2 separate regions of the Homo sapiens genome follow, and region 2 is linked to region 1. The links come from fine-mapping of genetic effects on gene expression. A gene starts in region 1. The other region holds a variant in brackets. All regions are shown on one strand. Distances are between the middles of the regions.

Region 1 (5,374 bases):
ATGGCTACAGCCTTCAGAAGTGGCATTTGAAACAGGATTAGAAGGATAAGCTGGAAACCCCCAGCCACTTTGTGGCTGTCCCCACCCCAGCATGAGCAAAGTTTTCTTCTGGGAGACCCAAATGCAAGAGAGGGGCTCTCAACCTGAAGATTCCTGGACTGGGCCCATTCCCCTTCCCCTCTTCTGTCAGAGGTCTTGGCACCCCTGGGCAGCCTTTCTCTGGGGACTCTAGACACAGGAGGCCCTCAGCTGAATCCACAACTGCATGTTGTCTTTTCTTGTGTTCCACTTATTGAAAGCAGCAGCACACAGGGTCAAACACTGGGGCTATTTTAAAATCCCACATGTAAAAATTAAATTCTCATCCCCATGGGCACTCCAGGGCGCTCTTTCCTGGGGCGGGGTGAGGAGCTGACAGAGTCACGGGAGTGGGGGTTCTGCTGGCACTTGGAGAGGCCACACTGGCAGTGGCTAGGCTGTTCCAGAGCAAGCTGGCAAGCTGTATGACCTGGGGGCATCCTCCAGGTTCTTCACCCCCTTGTCCCCCCGGGAGCTACACGGACCAGAGTAACCAGCCAGAGGCCAATCCAATTAGAGTGGAGACTGGACCAGGGCCATGCAACGAGATGGTTTATCACAGTAATTGAATGTTTACGCTCCTATTATTCACTGTCCAGAGCAGTTGGAAAAGGAAGACCTACGAATTCTCAACCCGGGAAGGCTTCTCCTTTTCCCTGGGTTCTGAAGCCACTTAACACCCAAGGAAAGGGTGCATTTCTCTGATCCAAAAGGGGCGTGTGCCACACCTTTGGTGGGAGGCTCTAGAGCAAGACAGGTGGTTTCTCCCCTCAGCTGAGGCCCCCTAGGGAGGACTGGCTTCTCGGTCCACCTTCACTAGGCCTTCAGTCTCAACCCTGAAGCTACAGGAACAAGAAGATCCCAGATCACCTGGCCAGGCTCCCCCTGCTGGAGCAAGCCAGACATCCCCTCCCTCCCCCAGCCGCAGCTGCCAACAGGGATCCCCTGCATACGCGGGCCACCGGGGCCTCCGTGGCCAGCCTCTCTTCCCCCATCCCACCGCCCCCCGCGCGAGGCTCCACAGGCTGGCACACAGGTCCCACGTGGGATGGTGGAAACAGGAAGCAGCCACCGTAGTTGTGACCAACAAAGTTTTAAATGGGGCATATAACTTCCCCTTTCATCTTCTCACCAGCTCTCGCTGGAGGCTGGGCTGGGACGGACACCCGGCCTCCACTTTCTGTGGCAGGTACCTCCTCCATGTCGGCCCGCCTTGGGGCTGAAGCCTGAAGGCCCCAGGGCACACGAAGTTCCCCTTCCTCCCCTAGACCTTTACCCAGAGGCCTTGGGGGCAACCTGACACACATGGTCCTGCATGTGCGACTTGGGAGGCGACGTGACCAGCTCCACCAAGCCGGCCATATGCAGGGCCCGGCCGAATCCCGGGTTTCGGCGCTGCCGCCAGGCACCAGGGAACACAGCTCCCCGCGAGGCACCGCGCGGGCTGGGAGGGCTGCGGCGGCGCGGGCGTGCGGGGGCGCGCGGGAGGATGACAGGTCTGAGGTGCGCCCGCCCGCGCGAAGCGCTCCAGCCTAGGCCTCTGCTGACTGCATTTGCCCCAGTTCCCCAACGCCCCTGCACCTCTGTCCCCCAAACTCCTGGCGTGGACGCCGCGTCCAGGCCCACTTTCCCGTGCACGCTGGCAGGGGAAGGGGCTCCCGCGCCAAGTTCCCTCAGCTGGCTAGCCCCTCGCCGCGCCTTCCGGGCCTGGGCTCCGTCACGTCAGCCGGTCCCCACGGACACCACGTTTCTCTCCAGCGGAGGAGGAGCAGCCGGATTCCCGAGCCGCCGCGGGCCGCCGGGTGGGGAGGGCTTTCCTGGCGGGGCCGCGCCCGGGTGGGCGGGGGCCGCGCGCAAGCTGCGTAGCTGCACAAACACCGCGGGGCTGCGCTGCACACGCAGCTGCGGGCCGAGGGCGCGGACCGCGGGGGAGGGGGCGGCGGGCTGCAGGCGGCCCCCGCACGGCCACACGCGCCCGCTCCACCGCCGCCCAGGCCGCAGAAGTTCGAGCGCAGCGGCCCCCGCGGCCCCCTCTCCGGGCCGCGCCTGCAGAGCTGCAACCCGCCGTGCGAGCAGCCACAGCTCGCGCGCCGCCTGGGGTCCCCTCGCCGGCCCCGCCGCGTGCAGGCCTCGGCCGCCGGCCAGGCAGCCCCACTTACCCAGCTCTTGCCCGGGCTCCGGGCTCCGGGCTCGGCTGTCCCCCTTCCGCCGCGGGTCGCCGCCTTCGGTCGCCTCCGGGACTCCAGCCGCCTGCACGCACTCCCGATTTTAAAAACAAACAGGCGCCGTCGCCTCCCCGCGGCGCTCGCGGGGCTTCCGCCAGCCCGCGCCTCCCGAGGCTGAGAAGTTTGCTGGCAGGGCCCGGGCGGGACGCGCGGGCTGTCACCCCCCGCTTGCGATGCAGGAGCCTCGGCGCGCCCCGCACCCGTGCCGTCCGCCTCGCGAGCGCTCTGCCTCCCTCCGTGTCACCCCCAGTCCTGCGATGCAGTGTCAGGATTGCACGGCTCTGACTCATCGGTTGAGCTCACAGCTTGAAAAAAAAAAAAAGAGAGAGGGCGAGAGGCAACAGCGGAGGAGGAGGACTCTGGCGTGCTACAAAGGATTGCACAACTCGAGGCTGGGAGCGCGGAGCGCCCAGCGGCCGGCCGGCGCGCGCGGCACCGCGGCGAGCAGGAACCAGCTCTACCACTTCATCAGCACAACTGTCTCGGGGCGGCCTCAGCCAGCAGGCCCGGCGCCGCCCACTTCCTGCGACCAAATAAGGCCGGGGAAGGCGTCCTTAAACCTCAGGCGGCGGCCGGGGCTGGGGATTTCCAGCAGACCTCACCTCCACTCACGAGTCGGTCGCCGTCCCCATCCCCCGCCCAGGCTGGCGCCCCCGATGGCTTTGCTGGCGGGCCACGCTGCTAGTTCCTTTCACACCAAGGTCAGGAGGAGACGGTGACGAAATGTTTGGAAACCCATTGAGCCTGCCAGGAAAGTGTGTGTGTGATGCTGGGGAAGGCACAAGTCGCTTTCTTCCACAAAGAAACTCTCTCTGGTTTTGGATACGGTAAATCATGCACAATCCTCTCCATGGCATTTTATTAACAGACTCTCCGAGTTTCACTTTCTGGCTCAAAAGCGTCCTGGTGCGTGTAAAGGTTATTGAGAAACTGGCCTCAGTCCCTAGAAAGGACCCACCATCTCCATCGCTTAGGTGAGGAAAATCTCCTGGATTTAAATCTAGCAACTCAGGCCAGAGTTGAGCGGCTTTTCACTCCATACTCACATTTTCCCCTGTCTTCCCTAAATATCCCCCTGATCAATTCTCAGGTCCAGGCCTTGATGCCTCCTTGCCTGACTGGTGGGAAGATGGAAAACATTTTTGCAGCTCAAGAGGTTGGTTCTGGCCCCCACATTCAATGGGGCTCTAGGGCCAGGGGAAAGTTCAGGGGAGTGTGTCCTATTCTTCCTTCCAAGTTTTTTGGTGGTGGTGCAGTGGTGGTGGTGGCGGCGGCGGTGGTGGCGGTGGCTGTTTTTCAAGGAGATGGGTCACAAGGAGATTTTCCTTTGAAAGAAAAACCACCGAAGAATACCATGTGTCCTGGCAGCCACTTTTCAAAACACTGTGGCCAGACCTGAGAACCAGGTGCATCCCTCACTTTCTCAGGGAGAAGAGGAGGGAGGGGCAGCAGAATATGATTCTCACACACTCACTGGGCCTACAGGGCCAGGGTGGGGTGTGGAGGACACAGGCAAAACTTGGATCTTCTGCCCAGAAATCCTGCCAAACCTGCACTTGCTTCTAAGGGGGCATGGCTTTCCTGTCCTCTTCCACCTCTTTGCTGGCTGGAGCACCTGCGTACATGTACACCTGGAAGTCACACCTCCCCAAGAGGAGAAGGGCTTATTTGCACCATGTTATGATAGATATGTCAAAATAAGGAACACTTAAAACAATCTTATCTACAAAATACAGGTAATTATGCCACAGGACTGGACCAGAGGACCTCTTGAGATCCCTTCCAGTTCAAGATCCATGATTCTGTGATTACAGTAAGTGAATAGAGGAGCTAGGGAAACCACCTTCTACAAAAAAAAGCCCGGGCTCCCCGATTTAGCATCTGTGATGACAGTATTGTTCCTGGCAGCTCTCAGAGCACTTCTCCATACAGTCTCCTGAAGAGCCCTGCATGTGAGTTTTATCTCTCTCAATCTGTGGATGTACTGAGGTTCAGAGAGGTTAAGTGAATTGCACCAGGTCACAGGGCAAGCCAAGCATCTGTGACCTCTCTGCTCCTCCCCCAGAGGAAGGCAGTGAGCAATTGAGGAACTGCAGTGCTCAGGCCTGCAGACCCCCAAGCAGAGGCCAGACTCTCAGGGCTCCTGGCAAAGGATCAGGGTAGAGCCTTTTTACTTTTTTCATTTGCCTGATTTCTTCCCTCCCACTGACAACACATCCAAGTGAGGGAAGCAAAAGCAAAGCCATTTGGTCTCCAGTGCCCACTGCTGCCAAGTTCCTCTGCAGACCTGTGGCCATCCTCACCTCCCCTGAGAGCCCAGCCCCTGCAGTTGGCCTTAGGCCAGCCCAGAGTGAGCCCCTAAGAGCTTGTGCAGACCAGCCCAGGGATGTTCCCAACCAACCAGAAAACCTGACTGGGAAGCACATTGCTAGAAGAGCCTGCCATCATGGAGCCAGGGCCCAGCCTTCAGGGAACAGGTGAAAGCCACTCCAAAGGAGTGGCCCAGGAAGCAGCATACATAGTGGAGGCAGGTGGCAGGGGAAACAGAGAAGTCAGTGGCCCTGAAGGAGCCTTGCTCACCTTGGAGCGGCACCGCCCTTCACTACAGCTAAACTTCCAAATTCAGGCCACCTAAGAAAGGAGAGAGAAGAAAAGGGGCACACATGTGTGCAGGGGAGGAGGGCTCAAGACTATACCAAATAGCCCCCCCTTGGCAGGAGAAGTCTACCTCAAAAAGGCGGGCAGATGAGGCTATGTAAAGAAAGCTGCAGCGCTTCCGGGAAAGCCCTGGAGGTCAGTTTTGCTGCAGATATGACGGTGCAGAATCACTGACGTGTGAAGTGAAAGTTTTGGTTTTAGAAGCTCCAGCCCCTGCTACAAGTCTCTGGGGCAACCAAGAAGGTTGACCTTTCAGGGAAATGGGGAGGTGTTCCAGAGACCTTATCCACAGAGTTGGATTTTCTCCACCCTCAACCCTCTTTACAAACTGCACGAAAAAGGAGTACAGAGCTCCAGTTACCAGGGAGTGTGACAAGAGAGAAACACTCCAGGAAATAAAGCACCCTAGACAG
Region 2 (5,374 bases), 90 kb before region 1:
CTATTACTCTTCCTTCATTCTCTCAGCTTATGCGGTCCTGCCTCAAAGCCTTTGTACTTGAAGTTCTCTTGCGTGTAAATGTTCTTCCTCCAGATATGTGCATGGTGAACTCCCTTACTAACTTCCTTTGGGTCTTTCCCTAACATCATCTCCTATCAAAAAATCAACTGTTCCCAACCTCCTGATATTTCATTCCTTTTACCTGCTTATTTCTTTTCTCCTTCACATTTTTCACTATCTAATATACTTACTTATTTTGTTTATCTGCCAAATGTTAGCTCCTTGATAGCAGGAATTTTTGTCTGTATTATTTGCTGTAATATTGCAAGTGCTTATTGCTGTTCCTGGTGTATAGTAGATGGTCAGTAACTTATGTGTTGAGTGAATAAGTTATCGAATAAGCGTTTAATTCTTCATGAAATAGAAAAAAGAAAATGGTGTTTTTTCATATCAAGAAGCTTTAAAGAATAATTATGTGATTTTCTTAAATATTTAATTTTCATAAATTTATAGTTATATGGGATATATTAATTTGCTAGGTTGCTGTAACAAAGTCCCACAGATTGGGTGGCTTAAACAATAGAAATTTTCTCACAGTTCTGGAGGGTAAAAGTCCTGTAGTTGTGATCAAGATGTCAGTGTGGTTGATCTCTTCTGAGGCCGCTCTGCTTGGCTTGTAGATGGCCGTCTTCTCCCTCTGTCTCTTTTTTTTTTGAGACAGAGCCTTGCTCTATCACCCAGGCTAGGGTGCAATGGCACGATCTTGGCTCACTGCAACCTCCGCCTCCCAGGTTCAAGCAATTCTCCTGCCTCAGCTTTCCGAGTAGCTGGGATTACAGGGACACACCACCATGCCCAGCTAATTTTTTTATTTTTAGTAGAGACAGGGTTTCGCCATGTTGGCCAGGCTGGTCTCAAACTCCTGGCCTCAAGTGATCCACCCGCCTCGGCCTCCCAAAGTGATGGGATTACAGGCGTGAGCCTCTACACCTGGCCCCTCCCTCTCTCTGTACATGTTCTTTTCTCTGTGTCTATGTCCAAATTGCCTCTTGTTACAAGGATACCGATCATGTTGGATTAGGGCCCATCCAAATGACCTCATTTTACCTTAATTACCCCTTTATTTTTTTTTAAGTGTCCAAATGGCCCAATTAATTACCTTTTTCTTTTTTTCTTTTAGACAGGGTCTCACTCTGTTACCCAGGCTAGAGTGTAGTGGTGCAAACTCCTGTGCTGAAACCATCCTCCTGCCTCAGCCTCCCTGAGTAGCTAGGCTTACAGGCATGTGCCACCATGCCCAGCTAAACTTTTTTTTGAGAGGGAATCTTGCTCTGTCACCAGGCTAGAGTGCAGTGGCGCAATCTTGGCTCACTGTGACCTCCGCCTCCCGGGTTCAAGCGATTCTCCTGCCTCAGCCTCCCAAGTAGCTGGGATTACAGGCATGCGCCACCATGCCCAGCTAATTTTTGTATTTTTAGTAGAGATGGGGTTTCACCATGTTGGCCAGGATGGTCTCGATCTTCTGACCTCGTGATCCACCCGCCTCGGCCTCCCAAAGTGCTGGGATTACAGGCATGAGCCACCACGCCCGGTCTAAATTTTTTATTTTTTATTTTTTATTTTTATTTCTGTAAAGGCAGAGTCTTTCTATGTTGCCCAGGCTGGTCTCGAACTTCTGGCATCAAATGATACTCCCACTTCACCTTCTCAAAGTGCTGGGATAATTGGCATAAGCTACAATGCCTGGCCCAATTACCTCTTTACAGGCTCTGTCTCCAAATGCAGTCCTATTCTGATACTAGGGATTAGGATTTAAAGATATGAATTTTCCGGGGGACACAGTTCAGCCCATAACATGGGGTCTTGCTTCAACAGTTAAATCATTTTGTGTGAATTAGACCACTCTTAAAATACCTTGCTCTAAAAGCTCATTGTTTCTTGTAAGACAAATTAATTTATTAAATAAATTGAAGTTATATATGCCTGATTCTCACACACACACATACACACACACACACACATTCACACACACATCTGTATTGTGTACTTACCATGGGTTACACATTTCACTGAATATTTTAGGTAATTATCTCATTTCATCCTTAAATTCCTATAAGATAGAAATTATATTTCCCCATTTTATATATGGGAAAATAGATTCAAAGAGGTTTGTTTGCTTCCCTAGAGAGTTGGGATTGAAACTCAGTTAATTGGATTTGAGTTCTTACCATTCAATTATGGATGTTATAGAACAATGTCATCCAACAGAACTGTCAGCACTGTCCCAATACAGTTGCTACTAGCTACATATAGTTATTAAGCACTATGAAATGTGGCTAATGTGACTGAGAAACTGAATTTTAAATTGTAATTAATTTTAATTAAAGAGCCACATGTGGCTAGTGACCACCATATTAGACAAAGAAGTTATAGATGTTTAAGTTATGAAAATTAAATATAGTAATAAGCAAAAGTAATCACAGTAGTTTCTTGGAACAGAAATGAGGTTTCCTGGGTGTTTCAAAAAGAAATTTATTTTTAATTTGGAAAAATAATATATGCACCTGGTTTTATTCAAATGGTTCAAAAGAGGTTACAATGGGAAATGTCTACTTCTGTTAGTTCCTCCCCAAAGACAACCACGGTTTCTACTTTCTTTTTTCTCTTCCAGAAATAGCCTATAGATATACAAATAGAAATAACCTTTAAAAAATAAAGATAGGCATTTTATTTTATTTTTTATTTTTTATTTATTTTTATTATTATTTTTTTTTGAGATGGATTCTCGCTCTGTCGCCCAGGCTGGAGTGCAGTGGCGAGATCTCGGCTCACTGCAAGCTCCGCCTCCTGAATTCACACCATTCTCCTGCCTCAGCCTCCCGAGTAGCTGGGACTACAGGTGCCCACCACCACACCCAGCTAATTTTTTGTATTTTTAGTAGAGACGGGGTTTCACCGTGTTAGCCAGGATGGTCTCGATCTCCTGACCTCGTGATCCGCCCGCCTCAGCCTCCCAAAGTGCTGGGATTACAGGTGTGAGCCACCA[C/T]GCCCGGCCAGGCATTTTATTTTTTAACCAAATCACAGTCTAATTATTTAAAAACTTGAAAGAAAATGATTTTTTAAATACCAAATTTATTTTTTTTCACTTCTGATCCTTCATGGAGTGAGATGGACAATATATAAATATATGTTCTTATTTTCTAGTATGAGTTCTTGTAAGAGATTTGAAATATATATGCTCCCAAACTCAAAATATTCTCTACTGCTATTTTATCCTGTAATATTTTTATTAGCCAGCAATTTAAGACCATGTGTTCCAGATAGCTAACCATTTTTAAATTTAATATTGACATGTTATGAAATTATACCTGTACTGTTTACTTTAGATGATAGGTCAATGTTATTTCTACTTGATTACCCATTTTTGTTAACACAACCTTTCTTACTCATTGTATAAGGATATCTATTATATAAAACTTATTAAAGCTTTATTATTCTAGATTTACAACAATTGTGTAATATGATTCTAGTAAACAAAAAAATGTTTTCTTTTCACTACAGAAAACTTGAGGATATTATCTTTAGGAAGAAACAACATAAAGAACTTAAATGGACTGGTAGGTTGTTATTTATTATTATTTTATTTATTTAATTTGCACACATCTATGAATAATTTCTTGGATAAATTCCTTGAAATGGAATTACTAGGTCAAAAGGTATCAGTTTCTTTTAAGGCTTTTGTGACATATTCTCAAGTTACCCTTCAATAGGTTTGCAACAACCTGTACTCCCACCAGTAACGTGTGAGGTTTCCCAATTTCCCATACCAGCCTTGGGCATTTAAAATTTTTTTGACATGTCTTATTTCTATATTTATTGGCCATTTGAATTTCCTTCCAAAGAATGTGAGATGGAACAATAACGTAAAACTAGGCAATTTCAGGAAAGATGAAGTGAATATTTCTTGTATCTGTTCCCGAAAAGACAATACTTTTTGATGTTTATTGTTAAATAATTCATAAACATACTGAAATTTTGTATGGCCCTGGCTGCTTTTCCCCTCCCAATAAATCTAGCTTGTGCTTCGTAAGAGGCAGTGGGGAGCTGAAATTGCAGTGGTTTCCAACAGTAACCTCCCAAGACAAAACAGGCTAACATGACCATCCTGCCCAGTACAGAAACAGTGGTAACCCTGAATAGGAGTCATGTTCAGAGGTGCAATTTTGGAATTATCTCAAATTTGTTAGCCAAACTCTGAATTATATTTCCACCTCTGTGATTCTATTTACCTGCATAAAGAGGTACTGATGAGTTTATAAAATGCTGGAAATTCTTAAGGGTCAGGCTGAGAGCAGTGGCTCACGCCTGTAATCCCAGCACTTTGGGAGGCCGAGGCAGGCAGATCACGAGGTCAGGAGATGGAGACCATCCTGGCTACCACGGTGAAACCCTATCTCTATTAAAAAAATACAAAAAAACTAGCTGGGTGTGGTGGCGGGCGCCTGTAGTCCCAGCTACTTGGGAGGCTGAGGCAGGAGAATGGCATGAACCCAGGAGGCGGAGGTTGCAGTGAGCTGAGATTGCGCCACTGCACTCCAGCCTGGGTGACAGAGCGAGACTCTGTCTCAAAAAAAAAAAAAAAAAAAGAAATTCTTAAGGGTCAGATTCTGGGATTAAATAAAGGAAGTTTCCTAACCCAAAATAATAACCATCAGATGAATTATTTGTTTTCTAATTGGATATGGTGAGTAAAATTCTTAATGATCTGTAAAAATTTGATTTTTTTTTTTTTTGAGACGGAGTCTTGCCCTGTCACCCAGGCTAGGGTGCAGTGACATAATATCAGCTCACTGCAACCTCCGCCTCCCGGGTTCATGCCATTCTCCTGCCTCAGCCTCCCGAGTAGCTGGGACTACAGGCGCCCACCACCACACCTGGCTAATTTTTTTGTATTTTTTTAATAGAGATGGGGTTTCACCGTAGTAGCCAGGATGGTCTCGATCTCCTGACCTCATGATCCGCCTGCCTCGGCCTCCCAAAGTGCTGGGATTACAGGCGTGAGCCACCACACCTGGGCAAAATTTGATATTTGTGATGTTCTAAATAAATTGGTAAGTTTAAGGATATTTAGCCTTCTGTCCAGTTTCTGAGCCTTAGATGGAAAAATTTCAAATATAGAGACATTGTGCATAAAGCGTAAAATATTAAATTGTAATACAGAAATTCAGAATTATTATATTTCAGGCTAAATGTAACTTTGAGTTATCTATAAAGAAATAGTTTGCAGATAAATGTACTCCAGAACTTTTAGTGTCAATATACTTGATGTTCCCCCAGGTATTTATAGAATCCCTTATAGAATCCCAAATTCTCA

Direction of the effects. Alleles are on the strand shown, and positions count from the first base shown. SD is a standard deviation of normalised expression in the study named.
For the expression in fibroblasts of the gene that starts at base 2,778 in region 1, T is the high allele of the variant in region 2 and C is the other (moderate effect, 0.41 SD a copy in GTEx).

Evidence for each region. PIP is the estimated chance that this variant, and not a neighbour inherited with it, causes the effect.
Region 2: its variant is the best candidate, but not a certain one, in a credible set for the expression of MIDEAS in fibroblasts (GTEx, PIP 0.66).

What each region holds. Positions count from the first base shown.
Region 1 is chr14:73,757,526-73,762,899 of GRCh38, forward strand. It overlaps MIDEAS (mitotic deacetylase associated SANT domain protein), which reads right to left and starts at 2,778. Exons shown (of 13, transcript NM_001367710.1): 1 at 2,238-2,778. It overlaps MIR4505 (microRNA 4505), which reads left to right and starts at 1,222; the gene lies at 1,222-1,294. RefSeq lists enhancers at 746-795, 2,856-3,185, 4,101-4,623, 4,624-5,145, 4,747-5,046 and silencers at 1,446-1,555, 1,916-2,065, 2,196-2,435.
Region 2 is chr14:73,667,981-73,673,354 of GRCh38, forward strand. It overlaps DNAL1 (dynein axonemal light chain 1), which reads left to right. Exons shown (of 8, transcript NM_031427.4): 5 at 3,562-3,617. Among named protein-coding and RNA genes, the nearest start is that of DNAL1, 26 kb to the left of the region's middle. RefSeq lists an enhancer at 1-118 and a cis regulatory region at 34. The variant C/T (reference allele first, on the strand shown) is at 3,047.